Homo sapiens: one gene and its partners. The protein of the gene in region 4 purifies or fractionates together with the protein of the main gene of each other region. This does not show direct contact. Each region holds a gene or a part of one and is shown on either strand. Other genes may lie near its edges. The genes, in order: CCDC85C, PPP1R10, PPP1R9A, PPP1R3A, KIF18A, DNAAF10 and PPP1R2.

Region 1 (3,500 bases), on a different chromosome or scaffold from region 4:
CAGGACAGCAAGCAGAGGAACCTCGAGTCCAGGAACATGCAGCCTTGTCCCCAGCAAACCTGCACCAGGAATTGAAGCTCAGTGTTCTCCTCTTGCACTAAACCCCTTACTGAGTCCTTTAAGCAGAGGCAATCAGATAGGGGAGGCAGGTACTTCCACTGGGGCCCTGCAGGAGGGGAGGCTGGTCTGGGCCAGGGTCTCAGCCTCAAACAGCGTTTAGACAGGTCACCATCTCTAGGCCCCACAGTGGGACCCATGTGGTCACAGGTAGCCTCACCATCCCCACACCTGCCCCAAGGCAAGGACCAACCACGAGGCAGGTGATAAAACCCAGGCTGTAGGGCATAGGAAGAGAATTCCCAGGAATATAAAAGAGCTGGCTCATAGGACCACTGAGTGACCGATAGGAGGCAGGATGGGCAGGGGAGGCCACCCCTTCCTTGTGGCTCTGAGTCAAAGGGCCAGAAGAGATGAGGGTCCCTGGGACTCTCAGCTCAGCCCATCCAAGCTTCCTATTTTACAGATGGGAAAATGAGGGCCCAGGGAGAGGCACAGACTTACACATGGTTGGGTCTCAAGTGGGCTGAAGCCACTGGTTCTGTCTGGATCGTCCAATCCACAGAACACTAGTAATCTTCCAAGACCCCCAGGCAGGGAGCATGTCAGCTGACAAGGCCACTCAGGCCCAGCAGGTGATGTGTCTGCATATTTATCAGGTGGGGAGCAGGGGAAAGATGGGGATAAGCTGTAAAAAGTTTCCAGTTTCTAATAGGACTTCTAACAGGTAACTCTGGGTCCTCTTGGAAAGTCCATCAGAAAAGGTTAGAGCTAGAACTGCCCACACCCCGAAGGAAAGCCCAACCTAGGGACTTCAGGGACAGTAGAAGAGGCTTCAAAGACCCCACCGGCCCTGGCCTTGCTCACTGCCCCAGTGCTTGTCCTGGGTCCCCACTCATCCATCACCCCAGCTGAACCCAAGGTGCAGGCAAATGCCCACCGCATGACTTTGCTCGGCTCTTCTTTTTGTTTTGGTTTCGTTTGGTTTTGGTTTTGGTTTGTTTTGTTTTGAGATGAGTCTTGCTCTGTGGCCCAGGCTGGAGTGCAGTGGCGCGATGGCTCACTGCAACCTCTGCCTCCTGGGTTCAAGAGATTCTCCTGCCTACCAAATAGCTGGCATTACAGGCGCGTGCCACCACACCTGGTTAATTTTTGTATTTTTAGTAGAGATGGGGTTTCACTATGTTGGCTAGGCTGGTCTTGAACTCCTGACCTCAGGTGATCCGCCCAGCTCAGCTGTTCTTTCTGCGAAGCCTGGTCTCTCTTCTTACCTGCTCTCTTCTGCTTTTACTAACTCCATCTTCAAGGCCCATCTCAGTTCCCAATTCGGCCACCCCTCCTCTGAGCTCCCAGCACACCTGAAGAGGTTAAGAGCCCAACCTGGGCATTTCCTTGAGGGAAAGGGGCATGATGAATAATCACACCCACAGGGCAAGGGAACCGGGACATACCGGCTGGCACAGGCTCCGGGTTCAACTGGACGGGAGTCCCTGACCTGGCCCAGCCCCACCCTGCCCCTGCTGTAACTTGCCTCACCATCCTGGGCCTGTTCCTTAGATGAAACAGGGACCCCAATGGGGACCAGCAACTGTTGTGGGAGGCGAGTGAGAGAAAACCCAGTTGCTGTCAGCACAGTGCCAGGCACACGTTTGTTCCATCCAAAAGACTTTCAGAACCTGCCACTCTGTGCCAAGGCTGGGAGTCAAGAGGACCAGAGTCCCAGGCTCATAAACTCCCAGATGAAGAGACAGTAATGACAGAGGGCCCCAGGTGGGCAGGGAGGGCTCCAGCACCCATGTGGCTGGCCCTGGGGTGGGCCCCTGTCTTTCTCAAGTCTCTTAGTGCCTTAGGACTCTGTGAAGTTTGCTCAGGGGTTTCCGGCTCTCCCGGGCCTGGCATTTGTTCCACTCTCAGATACCATCAGCCGCAGACACAGTCTACTCAAGGGCTTTTCCAGGGGCAGAGAGGGGAAGACCTGCCAGCAAATGTCCACATGGGTTCTAAGACACGCCCCATATTACAACTGGGAAGGGAAAATGCCCAGCTTTGAACTGAGGAAATGGCAGAATGTCTCTGCCGTTGAGGAATCAGGAAGAAGGAAAGGGAATCAGACCCTCGCTTCCTCCCCAGGGCCATCTACTGTAGTTAAACATGCTCCACGCCTCTGTTTGAACAGTACACATAAGGCAAACCCAAGAACACTTACAGGCAGTCAATACAATCCTGATCTTTCTGCTCTGCTCCCCTCAAGAGCTGGAGGTCAGCGGTGACCTGCTGAAGAACAGGCACCCATCCCCGGCTGACCCGGCTCCAGGCCTGCCCAGAACCCTCTGCCTGTGAGGACAGGGGATGTATGAGTGTCCAATCCTGGGTGCTTGCCTAGGGGAGGGGGACCATTTCTGACATGTTATGATCAAAGAAGCATCAAGTCCCTTTAGCAGACAAGTTTGTTCCTCTATCCCCAAGCCTTTGGGGATGCCAATAGAGTCTCTTGTTGTTATGTAGCAGGGAGATGAGAATTCTGAACCCCAGAGTGGTCCCTGCCTAGATCCCAGACGCTGATCCCAACCACCCTAGATGTAGGGATGGGAGTAGCGGGGAGCAGCATCAGCGCTGGGGATGGAGGGCACAGCAGCCACCTGGGAGCGGCAGCATCTCCCACAGGCGCTGTCCTGCCTGAGCCCCACCCAAGAGCTCAGGACGCCTGCCCTAGAGGACAGAGGTCATGAGAAGGCAGATAGCAGCTGAGAGCAGGACTTTGGAGCAGACTCACCAGGTCTGGAACCTACAGAAGGCTCTCTCCTGTGGCCACTCTCCTGGCCAGAACCTCCTCCCGATGGAAGCCCTCAGCTTCCACCCACTGCTCCCCCAGCCCAGCCCACACCACAGTGGTCACCAGAGTGATGCTCCAGAACCACCACCCCCCAAGCCAGACTCCAAGAATCACTGCTCAGGAGGCACTCAGACCTCAGAGGCAGTAAATGCTCAGTGAAGTCCGCAGACGCTTCCCTTCCTCCTGAAGAGCAAATTACCACCTGTGAGGTCAAGTCCCGCTTCCCACCTGGCTCTGGGTTCAACCAGATTGGATTGAACACACACATTCAAAGCTGGGCATTTTCCCTTCCCAGTTGTAATGTGGGGCGTGTCTTAGAACCCACATCTCAACCAGATTCCCAGAGCTGTCTGGGGTGTCCACAAGCCCCATCCTCAGTGGATTCAGGAATGCCCCTTCTCAGTGTCCACGCAACCTCCCCTGACACAGCGCTCCCCAGCCCTGGAGGCAACACAGGCCACCTGGGCCACTCTTGCTTGTGGGCACTGAAGTCTGAAAAGCTGGGACTTTGGGGTCTGCCCTGTGGGGCTGCCCACAGCACTAACCCCCCTAAGAGTTATCTCCCCACACACATCCTGGGTCCACCTTGCAGGCCCCGGATTCTCAATGC
Region 2 (3,500 bases), on a different chromosome or scaffold from region 4:
CCAGTTCCTCAAAAACTGACATTTTTTTAAAAAGCTACGTTAGTTGCTTTATGTATAACACACCTAATTGTTACAACAATCTGAAGACTTTTTATTTTCCTTTATAGATGTGAAAACAAGAATAAAATTTGTTTCTAAATATATGAAAAAATACTTTGTAACTCTTTCCTTTTGTACTTGGCAAATAACATCTCTGATCTATGGCACCTCTCTTCTGGCCAACATTTCCACTTATAAACTCATTTCATAATTTATCATTTAGTAATAGGAGTTTCACAGATGAGACACGCTAGGATGATACTATTTCCCACAGCAAATTTTAAGTGTATGTGTTTTATAACAAGCAATTTTAGGAATCAGCTTCCAGTTAAAGTATGGCACCTTATATTCAGCAACAGAGAAATGAACAACTTTGGAATTGAGAACAGGAAAGAGGGTACAGGTTAGAGGAACTTTCTCTTTAAAAGAAGGAAAAAAAGCAAGGTGAGGTAGAAAGAGAAAAGTGAAGGGACAATCCAAGGATGGGAAAAGATATTAAGGTAATTAAGTGGAAGTAATAGAGAAAAGCCCATGAGAGAGCAGAAGTGGCACCCTACCTTCATCCTCACTTGACTTGCTCAGCTGCTTCACCAGTTTAGCTGTGTTGTTCTATGAGAGATGGGAGCAGCAGAAAGGTAAATGCCAGGAGGCAAATAATTCCACTTAGAGCTAAAAACGACAAAAGTTACAGTCCTCCCTGCTTTTTTTTTTTTTTTTATTTTTTGAGACGGAGTCTCACTCTGTTGCCCAGGCTAGAGTGCAGTGGCGCAGTCTTGGCTCACTGCAGCCTCGACCTCCCAGGCTCAAATGATTCTCCCACCTGAGCCTCCTAAATAACTGAGACTACAGGCATGCACCACCACATCTGGGTAAATTTTTTGTATTTTTTGTAGAGACAGAGTTTTATCATTTTTGCCCACGCTGGTCTTGAACTACTGGGCTCAAGCAATCCACCCACCTCAGCATCCCAAAGTGTTGGGATTACAGGTGTGAGCCACCACACCTGGCTGACACATTCCTTTTTTTTTTTTTTTTTTGAGACGAAGTCTCACTCTGTCGCCCAGGCTGGAGTGCAGTGGTGCGATCTCGGCTCACAATAACCTCCACCTCCTGGGTTCAAGCGATTCTCCAGCCTCAGCCTCCTGATTAGCTGGGACTACAGGCGCATGCCACCATGCCTGGCTAATTTTTTGTATTTTTAGTGGAGACGGGGTTTCACCACGTCAGCCAGGATGGTCTCAGTCTCCTGACCTCATGATCCGCCCGCCTCAGCCTCTCAAAGTGCTGGGATCACAGGCGTGAGCCACCGTGCCCAGCCGCCACACACCTATTAAAGGAGATAAATTCAAACCAAGTCTTCTTCTTCTAAATTCCTATTTTTTTTCTGCTGTTCTACCTCACAGGCCCAAGATTACAGCCACATCAGTCAGTTTGAGTTTTTCATCCATTAGACTAAACCAAAAAAGGAAGAATCAGGGTTTAAAGACTAAAGGTACCTGCTTGAGATGGTCTACAGTGAGCGGTAGATGCTGCAGGGTCAGTAGAATTTGCTGGAGGAGGGGAATGTTGTTGGTTGTCTTTGAATACGTCAGCCAATTGTTAAGAAGTTTGTAGCCGCCAACGTCAATAAATCTGCAGGCAGGCAGGAGAGTCTATCAGTAATGCCCTTTCTAGGTTTTGACAGTACCACATCCTACAATCCCAGTCTCCCATCAATGACCGAGGAACCCCATGCCTCACCGCCCCATCTTTTCGCTACACCTTCCCATTCCAACCATCCAGATCCCCACTTACTTGACCAATATTTCTGGTGAACGGGTCTGCAGGAGAATGTTCAAGTAAGTGCATCGACTCACCATCTTTCGTGCTTCCTTCATCAAACTGCAGAAGATGAGTTAGGGTTAGAAATGAAGCAGCCAGTATCTCTTCTCTTAGCAAAAGCGCCTCTCTGTGAACTGCCTAGAGATTCCTAATGACTTGGGACTTTGCTCCAGAGAAGGGGAGTCACATATACCTCTAGGAAGATGGGATGGATCCAGTGTGACATGGAAACTTATGGGAGAACAGAGACACCGCAGTCTCTGACCTGGGGAGGAGAGCATCGCTGCCTCCGTAACACACAGGATGAATTCCATTCTGCCTCCAGGTGATAAGGCTATCCCTCAACAACTGTCCCTAATAGTCTGTTCAAGACTGGCTTAGTTATTTACTCTCCCCTGAAAAACCTGAGAATCCCTGAAGGAAAATAACATTATGGGTAGGTGGAACACGAACCAAAACAATCTAGAATTCTGTTACCAGGCTACCCTGCTCTCATTCCAAAGCATGACTCCCTTGGGACCGTGGACGTCCAAATCTCCAGTTTCCATTATGGTCAGAAACAAGTGATCATCTTTTCCTATCCCTTATCCTAAAATTGTTACATTTTAATCCTATTGCACTGACTATCTTTCCCTTTCCTTTCCAGGATCATTCCAGTGTGCCTCAACTGCAGCCATGTTTTAACACACAATATTCTCTACTCACAGTGAATACAAAAAGGGGTAAAGACTCACCTGAAGATCTTGGAAATCCCATCCACACTTTTGACTTCCCCATCTCGGTTAAGGAAGCTGTCCAGGCCCTTGAGAAGTTCTTTGGGGTCTATGGGACCCGAACCCATGATGGTGGTTTCTATGGTAAGAGGACAAAACAAACAAACCCACAGAATAAATGGGTGGCAAGGACTACCCGAGTAGGCCCTCTAATAAACCACATCTCTATATTTGACAAAGTATAATGACTAATTATTCAACTATGCTATTTTTTAGATATGAAAAATCGACACAGACCACTTGCCACTACTGAGAAAATAGCCCTGGCAAGTTAAGCATGGGGAGCATATGTGACTGAACAGGAAAGCAATTCGATTGGAGGAGTAGGGCAGCACACCTGTCCCTCCCTCCCAGCAGCATCCTTCCTAGGATGGCTGAACTTCACTAGATCGTATTAAAGCTAAGATCAGTTCCCATAACAAGATGTTCAACTCTCCAGGGCATTTACACCTATCGTTAAGTCCTGTCTTCCCTAGTTGCTGATAAATTTGGCTTGAAAAACAGCCTATAGCTTGATAGAAATTGGGCCAATCTTGGGTGTTTGAGCTAAATGTCTTATAAGACTTGAGTCCTTTTTATCTTAGCCCATTAAGAGTCATAATCACTACACATGGCAAGATATGTATCAGCTGAAGTGGTAGATGATGGAGAACAAAACAAAACTTGAAAACAGAATCCCTCCCTAAGGAGATCTGGGAGTAGGTGCCAGAGATTGAGACAAATGGATGCATGGAAATCAAGCAGGTCCTCCTAGACCTTGAATAGACTGTCACTCATTAGCCAAACACTACACAAGTTTTTACTGTCTCTAAGTTAAAAGGAAGCTAGTGGTTTGTGCTTTCAAAAGCAAAGATGCGAATCTGGTCC
Region 3 (3,500 bases), about 19 Mb from region 4:
AGAGAATAAGGAAAGAATGTTGAAGTTGGAAAGCTACTGGATTGAGGCCCAAACATTATGCCACACAGTGAATGAGCATCTCAAAGAGACTCAAAGCCAGTATCAGGCCTTGGAAAAGAAATACAACAAGGCAAAGAAGTTGATCAAGGATTTTCAACAAAAGTAAGCCGCTTCTAATAACTAAAGAATAGTTATGTTTGTCTAAAGAAGGTTTATGTCCAATAATTTTGTAATATCTAGTGGAACAGAAAAGATGACCTTAGAGATATCTTTCCTATCCAGGAGCATAGTTACAGCATAAATACACATTAAGTTTTGGAAGTCACTTCTATCACTTTTTCATGAGATTATGTTTTGTATATTTTATAGTTTTTGGCTGCCAGGGCCTCTTTGCTATTTTTGATAATTAATCGTTGTTTATAACTGTTAAAACATCTGAATTTCTTTATTCTTTTTGAAACACCTCTATGATTTAGAAACAAGAAGCCCAGCGGAAAGTCATGTAGAATGACTGACTATTGGATGTGGAGCACGCAAGCCACAGCTGGGGCCTGAATCAGGCTGCTCCTCTCTATTCTTAGATCAGTAACTACAGAATTTCCCACTACAGACAGTGCACATATCGACTAGCAAGGCCCCCTGCCCTGCCACTCTGCATTTCTCAGCTGTTGAGAGAATCAGGAGGGCCTCCTTTCACTGCAGGGAGAGAGACCATTACCACATTCTGCTTTTGATTTTCAACAGCTGTTTCTGAGCTACTGCTCCTTTGCTTCCATCTCTTGGATCTCGGTGTAATGTCACGGAGACTGACCACGGAGATTTTTACTAGATTTTTTTCATCAGTTACTTCTGGCTAGTTAGAACAAATAAGTAGTACCAGTACCTTTTCTGGTCTTCCATGCCAAGCCTCAGAAGCTAAGCATATATGTAAGATTAACCATATTTCTTTTATTTCCTATTATGTGGAAGAATGTTTTTAATATTTAAAAGAGTTTTGCTATCAAAAGTTTCTTGTTAAAAGGGGAGTAATTATTCTCTGTGACTATAAATTCAATACATCACTGTTTTAACTATTTGCCAAACTCTTTTTCATGAAATAATTTTATAGTAAATTTTGCTAAATTTGCATATTCTATTCCAGGTTTTCAAAATGGAACTGTTTCTCTTCTCCCCATATTATCCTTAGGTCTATAAGTGAGTGCCCCTCTCGATGTTTCTGACCCACCCAGCCCCCTCTTCACTGTTATTCATAGAAATCTTACAATTATCTTTTTCGAACTCTTATCTAGTTACATCAGTTTACTATACTATGCTTATGACATTGGAAAAATGGAATTATTTCTACCTGACAAGTAATTATCTCCACTAAATTACCCAATGTGGGTCATTAGTGCAGTCTTTCCTATCTAAATATGTATGGGTGTTCTAGAATCAGGAGCTACGAAAGAAAATTATAGTAAGCAGAATCGAATCATTTTTCTTTGCCTTGTGACCCATTAAAGATGTTTTAGTTTCTTTCATTACTATACTTTTTCCTCTAACTGATTGAATGTTGTCCATTTAAATAACTGTTCAGTTGCTTATCCTACTATGCAGTTTATTGTTTCAGATAAGAACTTTCATTTATTGAGTGTATGATATAATCAGAACTATTATTTTCTTCTTAAGAGAGCTTGATTTCATCAAAAGACAGGAAGCAGAAAGAAAGAAAATAGAAGATTTGGAAAAAGCTCATCTTGTGGAAGTGCAAGGCCTCCAAGTGCGGGTAAGTTGTGTTCCCTAAGACACTAAATAATAAGATGGTTTTGCTGTACTTGGAGGGGAGCGCTAGTTTAGAGTTTTATAAATGGATTTGTTTTTCCTAGATTAGAGATTTGGAAGCTGAGGTATTCAGGCTACTGAAGCAAAATGGGACTCAAGTTAACAATAATAACAACATCTTTGAGAGAAGAACATCTCTTGGTGAAGTCTCTAAAGGGGATACCATGGAGAACTTGGATGGCAAGCAGACATCTTGCCAAGATGGCCTAAGTCAAGGTTTGTTTAACCCAACCACAAAAATCATTTTTGATGACTGTGTAATTTGGCCTTTTATTTTTCTTTTTCTGACCCAGAGATTTAAAAGTTGGAAATACCTTCCTACTATGGGAAAGAAGAAAAGGCTTATCAAAATAGGAGTCAATCATTTTAGCTCTCGTCTTATCAAAAATAAATACTTTAATATGTAGCATTAACAAATCACAACTAAAGATAAGCCAAATACTATTTTAAAATCATCATACAATTGACAGATTTAATAAACTGCCTTACAAATTGTAGTTCATCCTATCTAGGATGAACTACACTACTTATGTGTTAATGACTAAGGTTTAGATTTTTTTTTTTTTTTTTTTTTTGAGAGTCTCACTCTGTCATCCAGGCTGGAGTACAGTGGTGCAATCTCAGCTCACTACAACCTTCGCCTCCCAGGTTCAAGCGATTCTCATGCCTCAGCCTCCCCAGTAGCTGTGACTATAGGCATGTGCTACCACGTCTGGCTAATTTTTGTATTTTTAGTAGAGGTGGGCTTTTGCCTTGTTGGCCAGGCTGGTCTCGAACTCCTGACCTCAGGTGATCCACCTGCCTTGGCTTCCTAGAGTGCTAGGATTACAGGCATGAGCCACCGCGCCCAGCCAAGCTTTAGAATGTTTAAGTCACTAGAATAAAGATCTTTTTCATAATATCAGAAGGCAGACTGCTGCTTTCAGCACTTGAGATTCATGTAGTTAACGAAGTCCATATAGTTTTGTGCTTTTACCATGGTGTACTGTGTATACTTCTTAGGTCTTTCATGTCAAAGACCAAGTAAGACCAAAACACTGGAAACATTTGGTATTATAAATGATTATCTTCATTCATACACCAACCATAAATAAATTACTTATGTTCTTACACACACAACATTCTTAGATTGCACGTGTATGAACATGAATGACTGTTTTAATATCTGTGGTATATTTGCAAATTAGAAAACACATAATAATTATAAAGATAAATACACAGGAATGTGTGGCTTCATCTTTTTAAATATATACATAGTAGTCCCTGGAAAATGAAAATAAAAGAATGTGGTGCAGCAGGGTTGTCATGACAGGACCGACAACTCAGAGGCAACACTTTGACGTGCAGTAAAACCCTGTTATAATGGGCTTTTTAGTTTTTTCGTGATCTTTCTCACATATTAAACTGTCTCCAGTGAAGTTTTCCTGATAAGCAAGTGTTTATATCCTATCATGAACTTTTAGAACTAAGCTCTTAGCCATTAAAAATGGAAAGGATTAGAAATCTTCATTTAAAATTAAAATGATATCTAGAGATTTGAATCCATTCACTGGGTTTATATCCTTCTAATGGGTTTTCCCTAAATAGGATGTAATTTATAAATAGTGCCTCTTAGGCAGCTGAAAGAGGAGGATTTAGCATTAGCATTACGACTAAGTGAGGAGCTGTGTGACTTCAGG
Region 4 (3,500 bases):
TTTGATAGGGCCCTGGGCAATCGGATCCACTTCAGATATCTGCCCTTGAGGTCTTTTCCCCTGCATTATTTCCTGTTGAGGGGTAGGGGTAAAAACCTGGAATAGGGATGAGAGTCACAGTTAGCAGAAGTGGAGGAAGGTGAAAAACTAAGTTGACCCACTTCATAACGGTGCCATCTTTTTCTTCTTCCTTTTTTCTTTTCTTTTCTTTTTTTGCCAGGAGCATTTTTGGCTCAGAAATAGTGGGCTCTGCTTTATTTTTACAGGCTGCAGATGGGCTTCAGGTGGGGAGGGATAGGCTCTCAGAGATCCCAGAGGATCCATTTGAGGCATGGCATTCATAGTGACTCCTTTCAGCCACAGCATGAGAGACACCCTGAAGGAGGATACCCTTTTGTTCCTCTTCTCTCAGAAAAGTTTCAAAATCACTCTAGGGAAAGTCTAGGATGGGGTATGGATTTCCACAAAACCAGGAAACCATGAAGCCTTGGTGGACCTCCAAGGAAACTTGAAGCCAGTTGGCACCTCGCTGTCAACCAGCTGGCTGCTTTCAAACACCCTCCTGATGGGCCCTGCACAGCTGTGTTTTATGTTTCCACGTGGCCTTGCCAGAGGTCCCTCCTTAAACAGACCCAGCTTCCACAATTAGTGTGGACTCAAAACGAGTTAGTTATGGCATACGTGAGGTCCCAAAGGCCTCGTGGGGCTATTTACACCTCTTTGGACTATTTCCAGGACCCCAGATTATACTGTATGCGTAAATTAAGGAAGTCTCACAATCCAACAGCTCTGACTGAAACACACAATGTAGCCATATCTTAGACCCCATTTCCCAATGCTTTTCTTGGCCTCATTTTCACAATTTTACCACCCTGAAAGATAAACCCTCTGTATTCTTAAAATTATGTTTTAGAAAGGAGTTCTCTCTTTCCTGTTCCTGAACGTACCTGGTTTTTTTCCTACAGTACAAAAATTGAGGACTAATCAATTTTCTCCTTTGGCATTAAAGTCATTTAGGACTTTATTTGCATTCACCTGGCCAAGTTATAAATACCATCAAACACCTATATCATGCAGTTTCTTTACTTAAAATAATAAATTGGTTTCACTTAATAAAATACAAAACCAGATGAACTCAACCGGTGTACCCAGCCATTAGGAACATACATTTAGCAGGCAGTGGGGAAAAAAAGCCAAGATGCTGAGAAGGGAGACCACCCCCCAGGCCAGTAAGTACACAGTGTCAGCTCTAGGTCACATATTCTAGAAAACCTCAAGTGGAAATAATTCTTATTTCATTTTTTATCTATGGCTTCTACTGTATACCCAGAGAATCTGAACTTGGTTTTGGTGTTTTCTCTCTTCCCTTCATTTCTCTCTGCTTTTCAAGGCCTTTTCCCTTGGGGCCTCTTCTTGTCTTCACAGGCGCCTGTCTCCAGCCACATTTCTCAGTTATCGATACTGCTGCCTAACAACTCAGAACCTGACATACAGTTCTTTAGTAAACATTTGTTGAATAAGTTTTGGAGCCTGAAACAAGGAAACCTATGATGTATGGAGAAATAATGCAAGTTCAAGAGTCAGGACATTAGCTGAACAAGATTTGATAATAAAAGGGACAATTGTGATGAAGGGCTTTTGATGATATCCTCATGTGTGTCTAACATGCTATATTAAAAGCTTTAAGTATATAAACTTATTTTAATCAATGTGACACTAGACATCATGACCCTTATTTGACAGGTGAATAAACTGAGGCTTTGAGCTCTGAAGTAATATGCCCACAGCCACATAGCTACTAAGTGTAAACTTTACTGAAATTAATATGCATGTCTGTTCAATCCTAAATGAATGCCTTTTTATCCCTTTTGGTCTAGTTCTTCATTTTTTCATCTATTAAATGTGGAAATTTTAACATTCCTAAGTTCTCTTCCAGCTTTAAGATAATTCATATATAAAGTGACACATTTCTCAAGAAAATTTACAGTTCAGTTAGTCTTCCTTGTTGATTAAAATCTTGCAAGAGACAAAGGAATGGCTCTCCAAAGCTGAAAATTTAGAAGCCCTGAAATGAAAGAGGAGAAGAACTTTGGTGCAGCTTGAGCCTTGCAGTTTTTCAGATACACCTAAAGCTGAAGTTACCATTGTCTTTTTACAGCAGTTAACATTTACTGATAACTTATTATGTTCCAGACACTGTGCTAAAAGTTTATATGTATTACTTCACCGAAATCTCAACCCCTATGAGATAGAGCTGTAGTTGTTCTCAATTAACATACCAGAAAAACAAGCTTAACTTGCCCAAGTTCATATTGCTAGCATGTAGGAGAGCTTGGATTCAAACTCAGATATCTTTAACTTTGAAGCCTAAAATCCTAACTTTGAGGTTATATTGTTTTGCATGCCATTTTAGCTTATTTGTCTATGTACATTTAATGTGATTTATATCAATGTCATTTTTGTCATTGATTTTAAAATAAAACCCATCAGATATATCAGGAATCTGCTTAGTTTGCTAGCATATGTGGTGATACTTAAGTATCTCATGATGCATGCCTTTCGGTGCAATTAAATATCTTTGGGTCACTCTCAATCACATGCCTATGAGTTACAAGCTCTGCCTCCCCTTCTCTCTACATATTTCTTTCTGTCCAAAGTGTACAGACTATCAGGCATCAAAAGAAAATAGACAACCCACACCAATGTGGAGATTTGCAAACTCTTAACATGAGAAAAATCTCCATAGAGAAAACATAATGCCTGGGTGGGTGATTGACTTAACAGAAATCCTACCTAAATGTATTTCCACATTCATTCATTCCATACTTATTAGAAGGGATTATTGACACTTTCAGAAGATACAATCTCAGGCACCCTGATAGCAAATTAACTTTTTTATTAAGAAGAATTGAAGTTAGCTGTTATTCTCTACACTAGGGCAGCCTGATTTTCATTTTAGCTATGACTGATATTACATACTATTACTAATCTATTTGCAGGTATAAAGAAAAAATCATATATATATATGTATGTATATGTATATACATATATACATATACATATATACATACATATACATACATATATACATATACATATATATACACATACATATATATACATATATATATTCTGTTTTTACCTTCTGAAAGAAATAACCTCCAAATTAAGCTACATAGGAAGTGTAGAAATGCTCAGAAATGACCCATTTAGATTCTGTAACTATTTGGAGAGAAGAGATTTTAGTAGCTATAATTTTTGATCAAATAAGTATTAGTTCATTTTTATTTTAGTCAAGTACACATTTTGTAAAATAACACCGATAAGGTGTGCTATTTTTCTCTAACCAAACTCTTCACAATAAAATCCAACTGCAATATTCATTTAGAAATTTGATAATGCTCTCTTGTGTGAGTTTTAGGAATATTTGAAACCCCATTGCATATAAATTATATCATGGAAAAGCTGTATAAATATTCTATTATGGCACATGCTGTTCT
Region 5 (4,186 bases), on a different chromosome or scaffold from region 4:
CTCAGAAATTTTCTTATAGAAGTTAAAAATATATATATTGCTTACTTTTTTAGAAATTTTAAAACATTTAATTGGCAAAGATTGTATAAAACGAAGATGTACAATGTGATGGTCTCATATTCTTATACACAATGGAATGATTACCACAATTAAATTAATACGTCTATCACCATTGATGCTGTACATTAAATGCCATGAACTTATTTATCTTATAACTTAAAGTGTACCCTTTGACCAAAATCTCCCTATTTCCCCCAAAACTCAGCTTCTGGTACCACTCTCTTATATTTCCTTACTTTTGATAGAAACCTCAGGGCCTGGCACAGGAGCTCTTGAATGTGAAAATAAAACTGATTATGATTTCTCTGTACTTGTCAGATATCACAGAGTGGCCATTCTCAATAAGTATGCTTTAACAATGCTTAGATTAGGTTGATATGGTGATAATTATTAATAATGAACAACAATGCTTTTCATTTGAGTATGTACACTCTGTCTCATGCATTATAGTAAACACTTGACATTCGTCATTGCATTCAATCCTTATAATAATCACGTAAGGTAGGTTGTAGTAGTATTTCCATTTTACAAAAACAAAGACTTAGCCTTAGGATAAGTAACTTTTCCAAGATGACGTAACAAGTGGGCAACCAAATGTCAAATATAAGTCAATTCAGTCAAAGATTCACCCCTAATTTTATGAAAGTACTATAATAAATTTAATTCATTGATTGTATTCACTGATACGTTCATCAAAAGCATTCAGATCATGTGATGCATCACATGGCATTCACCTGCTCTAAAGTCTCCAATGACTTCTCACCAGAAGAATAAAACACAAACTCCTTAACGGGTACAAATCTAAAGTCCATGTTATTAACAGCTAGGTTCTACTGGAATCAGAAGAGAATGCTTCCAAACAATGATACAGAAGTAGAGTGACAGTTATGATATATTAAATACAAACTCAAACCTGAATTAGATTCAGATTCAACAAACACTGTATAGGACTGAAAACGATACTCAACACTATCATCTACAGTCCATCTTAAAGCTCTTTTTGGAATATCAGTCTTGGGGGCACTACTCCCACCAACTTACAACCATCAGGGAAGAATAAAAGGTTCAACTGGAGGGAAGGCCGGCACTGACAGCTGAGCTATTTTTTTTCCTCTTAGTTTTCACAGTTGTCAGCAAAAAAAAAAAAAAAAAAAAAATCATTTTTATCGTGTCTCTTAATTGATTTGGGGTATTTCTATGATGGGACAAGATGCACTTTCAATATAAAAATATTATGTATTTGTAAATACTTTTCAATAGTAGAAGAGGAAGGGCTGGGTGCCCTGCCTCACACCTGTAATTCCTGCACTTTAGGAGGCCGAGGCGGGCAGATGGCTTGAGGTCAGGAGTTCGAGACCAGCCTGGCCAACACAGTGAATCCCCGTCTCTACCAAAGATACAAAAATTAGCCGAGTGTGGTGGCAAACGCCTGTAATCCCAGCTACTCGGGAGGCTGAGGCACGAGAATTGCTTGAACCTGGGAGGTGGAGGTTGCAGTGAGCAGCGATCACGTCACTGCACTCCAGCTTGGACCACAGAGCGAGACTCTGTCTCAAATAAATGAATAAATAATAGAAAAGGAGATTAATTACTACTATTAAAGGCAGATAATCTTTTAAGTTTTTTTCTTTGTGATTGTGCTTTGTAGATAATCTTTGTTTATTGAAATAGTTCTTACAAACTATGAACTTAATAAGAAGCACTATCTAGTCATTGGATATCACATTCTCTAGCATCAAAGTTTATAAAAACCTTACAAAAACGAAACAGGAGGCTAGACGTGGTGGAATGACACTAAAAATTAAAATCTGTAGAGTGCCTAAATTTCTACCTAATTATCCATAATCTAAACTATATATTATACCACAAAATCAGTTCATTCTGGTCAAATACTCTCTTCTCATATAATAAACAGCAGTCAGTCTTGGCTTCTCTGTAACTGAGTGACTAATGAGCTCCTAAAAAAAAAAAAAAGTCCTGCGGAAACCAAGAACAGACTATAGGACTGATTCTAAATGTTTACAGTTTAATTTCATCTGCAGAGCATTTGCCAAACAGTATCTCTTCCGTACCTCATCTGATCCTCGGCAATCCCGTTAGGCAGTCAGAGCGGCTTTTATCTCGATGCTACCTACAACTGGGGCTCAGGAGGGGTTCCCGATTGACCAGTGCAAGACTAACAGTTAAAGCTCTTCAGACAAAAATTTTATGCAGTGATGAACAAAAGCTCCTCGTTTGATAGGTAAGCCCCTGGGTACGCTTATATGTGAGTCTGAAACAAAACACTCCCAATTTGGAGTCCGGAAAAAAGCTGACACTACAAGGTGCTGGGCAGTTAAAGTTCTCTGCCAGTCTGGGAAAGGGGCCAAGATGCCCTTTAAAACTTAAGACTTCCTCTCAGGACTTAAGGAGATCCCTGCCCTTCCAGCTGAGCAGTCGAGGATTACGGTCAAGCAGAGCTGTGCTCTTAGCAGGTTCTCGAATCCCTTTTTCCTTTCACTTTCTCCCCAGGTACCCTGATCCCCCACCCCTCAACGCTTCTGTGTTTGTCAAGAAGCCCACCTGGTCTTCTAGACCTGAAGCGGCAGGACCCTCCGTTCCCAATAATACAAGTCACCAAAAGGAGCGTCCCAGAGTCCAGTTTTACCTTCATGTGCCTCTCACTCACTTCAGGCCCAGGCCAGGTTACCGCAACCACTTCACTTTAATGTCCGCCTCCCAGCGCTTCAGACTCAACCACAATATTCAAACCCAAGCCACTTTCCTCAGCGCTTCGTTTCATTGGCTGCCGCTCGCGTGATGTCATCACGTCGGACGCTGTCACGGCTCGCGGCAGCTTGGCGCCAAGAAGCTCAGCCTGGCTGCGCAGGGGAAGCTCTTTGCTTGCTCGTCACCGTGGCAACGCGCGCGGCCGTTTCCGGAGGCGGTGGCCAAAGTGGGCGGGGCTAGGCCGGAGCTGCTGGTGGGAGGCAGCCACTTGAGATCACCAGGCCTCCTGTAGACCGGCGGGTGCAGGGCCCGGTCCCAGAGTTAAGGGTGTGAGTGAGACTGCTGCGGGCAGGGGTTGGCCTATGCCCTCTGCTAGGGGGAGAGGTGGAGTTTGGGTGTGGATTAATGGGTTCTGGGTGTTTATTTTCTTTTCTCTGAGTAGTGAGGCCTCCAAGAAGTTGTAGGGACCTGTTTCTTCCAGACACATTAATATGGGCCAAAATGTGGGGTCTCTTCACCTGAATTAATTGGAGATCTTTTGGGTTGAGGCCTCAGGCTTCATTTCTCAGGACTTCCAGGCCTACTCCCATTAGTACTGACCGTGAAACTATTTTCTGTTTGGTTACTTTTTACATTCTCTGTCTAATGATGGCATAACAAAATAAATTTAAAGATTTTGGCTTGGTTTATTATTAGGTGAAGTGATTTTTTTTAAGTCCCAGGTTATAGATATTATTTCAGCATAGACACTTTAAAAAGAGAGAAAATACCTGGAACAAATCGGAAATACGTTTGCTAAAATAACTTTATTTGGCAGGGTGTTTTTAATAACAGTATCTGAATTTCATTGTTCTATATATTACTGTTATTGTATCCATTTAGCAATTATTTAGATTTTAGACACAATAGTATGCAATGGAATCAAACTCTTCCCTCTTGGAGCTTATATTTTGTGGATTCAATATCACTTTATAAATAGGATGACTCATACCCATGCAGAGTATTATAAATGCAACAATATATGGAAACCTCTGTATTATGGACATTTATTTCCTGTTGAGGAAAATCGGGAGTATTGTGTACTGTATGTGATGCATGTTATATTATTGTTTCTGATCACTAGACAGAGGATCAATAAAGCTACTACTTATTTTTGGCTGTATTACGTGTATCTTAGCTAATGAAATGGTTATTTGTGTGCTGCTGGTCTTGGTAATAAAATCGAGATGTCTTTATTTCCAGTAAGAACTCATTGTATAGTACTTTACGTTTTGACTTCCCAGGTATTTTATTAGTCCCTTTACATATGGTCTCTCAGTTAATTCTCAAAACAGCCCATGAGACGTAGGTAATATTATTTTCATTTTTCTGAGAGAAAACTGAAGTTTTCAGAAAATTCCTAACACAAAATTTTGTC
Region 6 (3,500 bases), on a different chromosome or scaffold from region 4:
TTCACGAGGGGTACATGAGAAATTTGGTACCTATTATAATTGATTTGGCTAGTTGTTTAATGGCCGCTCAAGACCATGAGGAAATTGCTTTAAAGGAAAAGTGAGATATAATTTTCTAGTGGGTACTCAAGAGCAGCTGTGTTTTAGAAATCACTTATTTTTTTTAATCATAAAAGCAATATTGAGTATAGAGGGAAAAATAACATTCAGTCTACCACACTACCACAACCATTAGATTTTTCTTTTCCTTTTAGGTCTTATATATAATTTTGCATAGTTATAAGTGTGAATATGAATTTGTATCTTAGAAACTTTTTTTATTTAATGTTTTGTCATATGCAAATGTTGCTGTTTCCACAGTTATCATTTTAATGACTATATAATATTCCATCATATGGCCGTACTTAACCATTCCCTTATAAGCCTTTGGTTTGCTTTTTTTATTTGTTGTCTTATGAGAGTGGCTTAAAAATAATGAGTAAATGAGTATTGTCATATGTGTAACTCTTTTGGAATAAATATATTTTATGATTTTTTAAAAAATTTATTGGGCCAGGTACAGTCACGCCTATAATCCCACAACTTTGGGGGCTGAGGCGGGCGGATAACTTGAGACCAGGAGTTTGAGACCAGCCTGGGCAACATAGCGAAACCCTGTCTCTTCTAAAATACAAAAATTAGCCAGGTGTGGTGGCACACACCTGTAATCACAGCTACTCAGGAGGCTGAGACACAAGTTTTGCTTGAACCTGGCAGTGGGAGGTTGAAGTGGGCTGAGATCTTATCAATTTGTATGAATCCTATAGAGAAAGATAATCTCTTATCTCTATATCTGGGATTTTTTTTTTCTTTTTAAAACAGGCTTTTGGTGGGTGCAGTGGCTCATCTCTGTAATCCCAGCACTTGGGAGGCTGAGGTGGGAAGATCACTTGAAACCAGCTTGGGCAACATAGGGAGACCCCATCTTTACAAAAACTAAAAATTAGCCAGGCATGGTGGTATAGTCCCAGCTACTTGGGAGGCTGAGGTAGGAGGATCACTTGGACCCAGGAGGTCAAGGCTACAGTGAACCATGATCGCACGACTGCACTCCATCCTGGGTGACAGAGCAAGACCCTGTCTCTAAATAAATAAATATTAAAGTAAAGCAGCCTTTTAATGATCAACTTTATTTTATCCCTGGAGATAAATCTAATGTTGTACCTCCACCTTTCCTGAGTTGTTTTCCTTTTAAGGATTTTTTTTTTTTTGCCCTTTTCTTATTCTCAGGTACTTGCCTTTTAGCCATTTTATTACATGCATTTGCATTTTTTGTAGGTAGTGACACTATTTTAGTAAGTAGTCCCATAACATGAATTAAAACAAGGGGGTTGAAATTAAATTGAGAATTTGTTAATTTTATTTAACATTTTCCTCTTCACTATTGCCACAGGAAAATTAAACTTAACTGTATATGAAATAGTATTCTAGGCCAGGCACAGTGGCTCACGCCGGTAATCCCAGCACTTTGGGAAGCCCAGGCAGGTGGATCACCTGAGGTCAGGAGTTTGAGACCAGCCTGGCCAACATGGCAATACCCCATTTCTACTAAAAAAGTACAAAATTTAGCTGGGCGTGGTGGTGCATGCCTGTAGTCCCAGCTACTTGGGAGGCTGAGGACGGAGAATCGCTTAAACCCAGGAGGCGGAGGTTGCAGTGAGCCAAGATCACGCCATTGCATTCCTGGGCGACAGAGTGAGACTCCATCTCAAAACAAAAGAAAGAAAGAAAGAAAAAGAAATAGTATTCTAGAACTCACATAAGAAACCATTAATTCAAAATTAGAGTGTATTCATGCCAATGGTTAAAATGGGTAATAAGGAAAAAAGTAAAAATTAAAACAACACTGGTATTTTCCCTAAAAAATAACACATTCATTTTAGGCTCATGATTTGAATTACGTAACATTCACATTTGCCTTGTCAGTCATCACTCGTAGATAACTTAGGAACACTTGTTGGCTTTTCTGTGTGTCTATTAATTTGGAAACCAAGTCAGATAGTTACATATGGGTGATATCTCTGATATTAAATACAACTTACCCAATTAGAAGTCAGAACAATGTGGATATTTTCAGATGTCATAACATCTGTCATATTGCCATGTACACAGGAAGCCATAGAAGAAGAATGTAGAAAAGAAACATAATCATTTACTTTTGAATTTTTGCCAACTCACTTTTATGCATGGCAGGAACTGTGAAGGTGTGGGACCCAAGGCAAAAAGATGATCCTGTTGCTAATATGGAACCTGTACAAGGAGAAAACAAGAGAGACTGTTGGACTGTGGCATTTGGTAAATTATTGAAGAATTCTTGCATTTGAATTATCAGATGGTAAAAAGCACGATGCTGCAAGAAATTTCACAGTAGTCTCTTTATGGTCTGTTTTGTGGATTATTCTAATAGTTTACTGAGGCAAATACACGTGGTGGTTAATGTCAGCCTCTGGGGCCTGAGTTTGAATTCTCACCTGCTACTTATTGGCCATGTGGCCTGGAGCAAGTTACCAAAGTTATCTGTTCCTTGGATGTTTCATTTATAAAATGGAATTAATAATAGAATTTACTTAGTTGTGTTGTCATGAAGAGTCAATGAGTTAATTACATGTAAAGTGCTGAGAATTGTGCTTATTATTATGTGTTCCTGTTTAACTAGATAATATTGACCTAATTTAAAGTCAGACACCATTAATGGGGATAAACCAAGCCTCAAATGCAAACAGTTACCTAACAAATCATACATTACGCTATATACGGAGTATGTTTATTTTCTAGAAAATAGTTTGCCATTACAAAGTTATTTCTTATAAATTTTGATAACTGTATTCCTTCATTAATTTACTTAAAATGAATATTGACTTTGGAAGACTAATTGACATTTGCCCTTTGATATGGTTTGGATCTATGTCCCCACCAAATCTCATGTCCAATTGTAATCCCCAGTGTTGGAGGTGGGGCCTGGTGGGAGGTGATTAATGGGGGCGGAGTTCTCATGAATGGTTTAACACATCCTCCCGTATACTTTAAATCATCTCTAGATTACTTATAATACCTAATATAATATAAATGCTGTGTCAGTCATTGTTGTATTGTTTAGGGAATAATGACAAGCACAAGAAGTCTGTACGTTTTTAGTGTAGATGCAAATTTTTTTCCAAATATTTTCGATCCATTGTTGGTTGCCTATAGATGCAGAACCCATGGATAGGGAGGGCCAACGGTAGAAGAGAGTAATAGTAGGAATATCCTTAGAGATGGCTCAGGACAATGGCCAGAGGTGTTAGGACGGCCTGAAGATAGTTCTAAGTTTTTGATGGTGTTTGCAAGGAAGAGATGAAATCCGAGCTTTAGGAAAATGAACTAGTGGTATTTAGCGGGAGTGATGAGTGGTACAGAGAATATGAGTTCAAGAGCTCTTTGCAGTATTCCAGGGAAGACCTAAGTTACAAGCACTGAGAAGG
Region 7 (3,500 bases), on a different chromosome or scaffold from region 4:
TGATCATCGTTGCTTAGGATAAAAAAAAGAATGAGGAAAGACCTCTGGAGTTTAAAAAGTATCTCTAATGGGAAAGAAAGAACGCCACATCCTGTAAATATTTTTTGCAAGATAAGGATTGAAGAAAAAGAACTACAGAACACAAGCAGAAATTAAGTTTTCTTGAAATTAAAAATAAAATTTAATAAACACAATCCCAGCACCCTAAGCCATTCATAATTTTGATTTCAGCATATTCTTCCCTTTGTATAATACATATAAATATGTATAAGCTATCAAAACATAAAAATATATATAACTATACATATAAAACAGTACATACAGTATATATACAATACATATGCTGATATATAAGTTTTAAGTATATGTAGTATAAGTTGCTTGTGTTTTTTTACCTTCTTAATGACTGTATAAGATTCATTTAGATTGATAACCTAAATAAGTTTTCCTATTTAAAATAAGGCAGACATGAACATATTTGTATATATGCTATTCAATGCTGTTTTAAAGAAAATTTGCTAGTGTAAGAGTCTGAATTAAAGTTTATTAAGAACTTTATAGTTCACTCCATGTTGCCATACAGATTTTTTTTTAAAAAAAGAGGACTGTTTGTAACGTCCCCAGTAAATTACCAAACCATTGCTAGGATTAGCTATTGTGTGTGTGTGTGTGTGTGTGTGTGTGTGTGTGTGTGTTTCCATTTCAGCAGGTATAAAACAGTATTTTAAAACTGTTGTTTCTTTGCCTAATTTCCTCATGTGAATTATGTTTACATCCTTTGCCTATCAGAAATCTTCCCATAAATTTGAGCTCTTTAGATTTATATAAACCACATTTTATATAACTTCAATTTTTCCCAGTTTGTTTGCCATTTAGTTTACTTTCTTCTGTAAATGAAATTTTAAGTTCTAAATATTCAAAGTCTCACTCAACTTGTTTTCTCAACAGAACACTAACAGAAAAAAAAATTAGTACAATTATTCAGATCCAAAAAAAGACAACAATAGCTTGCAAAAACAAGCATTTAAATAACGGTATTACAAAACAGACTCCAAAAATGCTAGGAAATCTTCGAAAGTTAGTGAAGTAGAAGAAACTGTCAGCAGGGGACACTGGATATGAAAGTCGGCATCTCTAAAGTGATGGCAGAATTAACATTAGTTGTGGAATAGCAAAACCCAAGGAGTGAGCCTGAGCTTAATCCCAGTACCATCATGAACTGTATGACCTCCTTTGAGGTCAGTATCCCTGCAGACAAAAATAGGGGCACCACCATTTACATGGCAGATCTGCCATGATGGTGAAAGCACCTGCTGGTTTCAGTTTTCCCCCACCCTCTTGGGTGACTGGTTTTCCTACAGCCTAAATCTGGTGCTGAAAACGTCACCGCTTCTCACTTTTACTTTGTTAGCTCATATGGTGCCACCTTAAGAAGACCTACTGGAACTTCTTGTTGCTTGTGACTTGCTCATTTGATAAGTTGTGACTGTGTCTGGAATGGGAAGCAAGATTTTGCTTCAAGGTGATTTAACTTTAATTGCACATTTCAAGAAATGGTTCTTTCTTTAAATGAAGATTCAACTTATATAGATTGACACAATATAAGACTTCGAAGCCTGATATCGTTACTGAACAATTAAAGTAAGACTTAACAATAAAAGCAATTACAAGTAAGCAAAAAGTAACTTTTAGAAAACAAATTTTTATTTTACTCAGTAAACCTCTGACTATAATATTCCACATCCCTTTATAGGCAGAAAAAGACAAAGTTGAAGCTTGTTTATATCTTAAATTACATCAAAGGAAATTAAGGCATAATTTTTTCAAGCAGAATTTGCCTGCATTATCTAAGACTACTATAGAATTTGAATTGAACAGAATAGTGAACTCCAAAGCAGACTGTGTAAAAACCCCGCTGAGATATGGAAAAAATGAATTTCTATATTTATTTCTATTACAATAAGACTAACATTTGAGGGTAAGGCACTGGGTTAAGCACTTTACATTTATTAATTCATTTAATATTTAAACTAAGGCACAGATATAATGAATAATTCACTGAAAATCACAACTAATAAAGTTTGCTAATAAGCAGCAGACAAGATTCAAACCCAGGCAATCTGGCACCAGATTAACCACTAAACTATAATCCTTCTCAAATGATAGGCTTTAGCAATATTTACTGTCATATTTTCAATAATTCCCAAAACACATTTTTTACATTTTCACATCTCTGAAAAAGAACATGTCTTAAAAGGATGGCATCTTATAATCATAGCTGGCAGTATTTTTTCTTCCTGGATAGTACATCTTAGAATCAACAGTGTCTTCTTTTCATTAAGATACACATATGTACTCACTAGGCCTGCTAAATTAGACCTTCATAAGTTGTGCCCTATATTCAAGGTATCCTGAAAGAATGGGAAGTCCACAATGATCGAAGATGACAGTGGTGTTTAAAACAGCTGAATGCTGTGGTGCAATGTACTGAGATTTATCTATACTTAGTTATGTGGATTTATGGATTCTATCCAGTTTTAATTTAACCCTCAAAAATTGGTATCTGACAAATGGTACCTGTAGAAACCACTCATTAAAGACATAAGTACTGGTGGGGCATGGTGGCTCTCACCTGTAATCCCAGCACTCTGGGAGGCAGGCAGATCACTTGAGCCCAGGAGTTTGAGACCAGCCTGAGCAATATACTAAAACCCCATCTCTACAAAAAATACAAAAATTAGCTGGGTGTGGTGGCCTGAGGTGGGACAATCATTTGAGAGCAGGAGATGGAGGCTGCAGTGCGCTGTGATCGTGCCACCGTACTCCAGCCCAGGTGGCAGAATGAGATCTTGTCTCAAAAATAAACAAAAAAAGACGTAAGCACTAATGCAAAGTATAAACAATAAGAAAATAACAGCACTGAGTCATCTAAAAAAATAAAACCCCCCTCAATGATGGTTTGATCGGTCCTGACAATTGGATAAAAAAATAGAAATGCTAGACTATCTGAATATGGCTTTATATAAACCTCACTTTAAGTGGACATTGAGTTTTGAGAATTATCTAATGATAGTAGTACATCCATATATGAATTACAGACATATATCTGAAGTATGTTTGAATTCTATTTTTAAAAATTCCTTGGTAATATTTACGTAAAATAACATCCTCTCACAACTGGGGGATGGGTAGGAGTCAAACTATCATCGCATTTTACACAACGAAGACACCTATAAAAGGTAGGGTTCATTCTCATTATTCTCTGATTCTTTCTTTGCAAGTTTACCTACTTGCTAAAATGTGTAATCCCAAAACTAGCATTTGAGGTCCGTTAGCAGTTGCTCACAGACAGCCACAGAGCAGGGCAGATTCTGAGTTGCCCAGTGCACCGTTCACAGCCGAGGTAGCATGTTCCCAGATGGGGTCAAACAAGGCGACGCTCTGCTTTCTTGTTTCAGCTCTTGTACTGTAAACAAGTGTCCTTTTCGTGGCCTATTTAG

Evidence for each region.
Region 1: the proteins of PPP1R3A (region 4) and CCDC85C purify together in Homo sapiens (affinity purification with mass spectrometry, with the first as the bait; one large-scale study listed by BioGRID). This does not show direct contact.
Region 2: the proteins of PPP1R3A (region 4) and PPP1R10 purify together in Homo sapiens (affinity purification with mass spectrometry, with the first as the bait; one large-scale study listed by BioGRID). This does not show direct contact.
Region 3: the proteins of PPP1R3A (region 4) and PPP1R9A purify together in Homo sapiens (affinity purification with mass spectrometry, with the first as the bait; one large-scale study listed by BioGRID). This does not show direct contact.
Region 5: the proteins of PPP1R3A (region 4) and KIF18A purify together in Homo sapiens (affinity purification with mass spectrometry, with the first as the bait; one large-scale study listed by BioGRID). This does not show direct contact.
Region 6: the proteins of PPP1R3A (region 4) and DNAAF10 purify together in Homo sapiens (affinity purification with mass spectrometry, with the first as the bait; one large-scale study listed by BioGRID). This does not show direct contact.
Region 7: the proteins of PPP1R3A (region 4) and PPP1R2 purify together in Homo sapiens (affinity purification with mass spectrometry, with the first as the bait; one large-scale study listed by BioGRID). This does not show direct contact.

Annotation. Positions count from the first base shown.
Region 1 is NC_000014.9:99,594,208-99,597,707, forward strand, and holds part of CCDC85C (coiled-coil domain-containing protein 85C), read right to left. Parts: intron 1-3,500. UniProt on the Homo sapiens protein: May play a role in cell-cell adhesion and epithelium development through its interaction with proteins of the beta-catenin family. May play an important role in cortical development, especially in the maintenance of radial glia.
Region 2 is NC_000006.12:30,607,244-30,610,743, forward strand, and holds part of PPP1R10 (serine/threonine-protein phosphatase 1 regulatory subunit 10), read right to left. Parts: intron 2,713-3,500; 5' UTR 2,702-2,712; coding exon 2,595-2,701; intron 1,921-2,594; coding exon 1,834-1,920; intron 1,672-1,833; coding exon 1,536-1,671; intron 649-1,535; coding exon 597-648; intron 1-596.
Region 3 is NC_000007.14:95,250,094-95,253,593, forward strand, and holds part of PPP1R9A (neurabin-1), read left to right. Parts: coding exon 1-162; intron 163-1,668; coding exon 1,669-1,765; intron 1,766-1,865; coding exon 1,866-2,037; intron 2,038-3,500. UniProt on the Homo sapiens protein: Binds to actin filaments (F-actin) and shows cross-linking activity. Binds along the sides of the F-actin. May be involved in neurite formation. Inhibits protein phosphatase 1-alpha activity.
Region 4 is NC_000007.14:113,912,510-113,916,009, forward strand, and holds part of PPP1R3A (protein phosphatase 1 regulatory subunit 3A), read right to left. Parts: intron 1-3,500. UniProt on the Homo sapiens protein: Seems to act as a glycogen-targeting subunit for PP1. PP1 is essential for cell division, and participates in the regulation of glycogen metabolism, muscle contractility and protein synthesis.
Region 5 is NC_000011.10:28,105,357-28,109,542, forward strand, and holds the start of KIF18A (kinesin-like protein KIF18A), read right to left. Parts: upstream 2,801-4,186; 5' UTR 2,708-2,800; exon of another isoform or gene 2,133-2,707; intron 1-2,132.
Region 6 is NC_000002.12:68,140,528-68,144,027, reverse strand, and holds part of DNAAF10 (dynein axonemal assembly factor 10), read left to right. Parts: intron 1-2,232; coding exon 2,233-2,334; intron 2,335-3,500. UniProt on the Homo sapiens protein: Key assembly factor specifically required for the stability of axonemal dynein heavy chains in cytoplasm.
Region 7 is NC_000003.12:195,536,826-195,540,325, forward strand, and holds part of PPP1R2 (protein phosphatase inhibitor 2), read right to left. Parts: intron 1-3,500. UniProt on the Homo sapiens protein: Inhibitor of protein-phosphatase 1.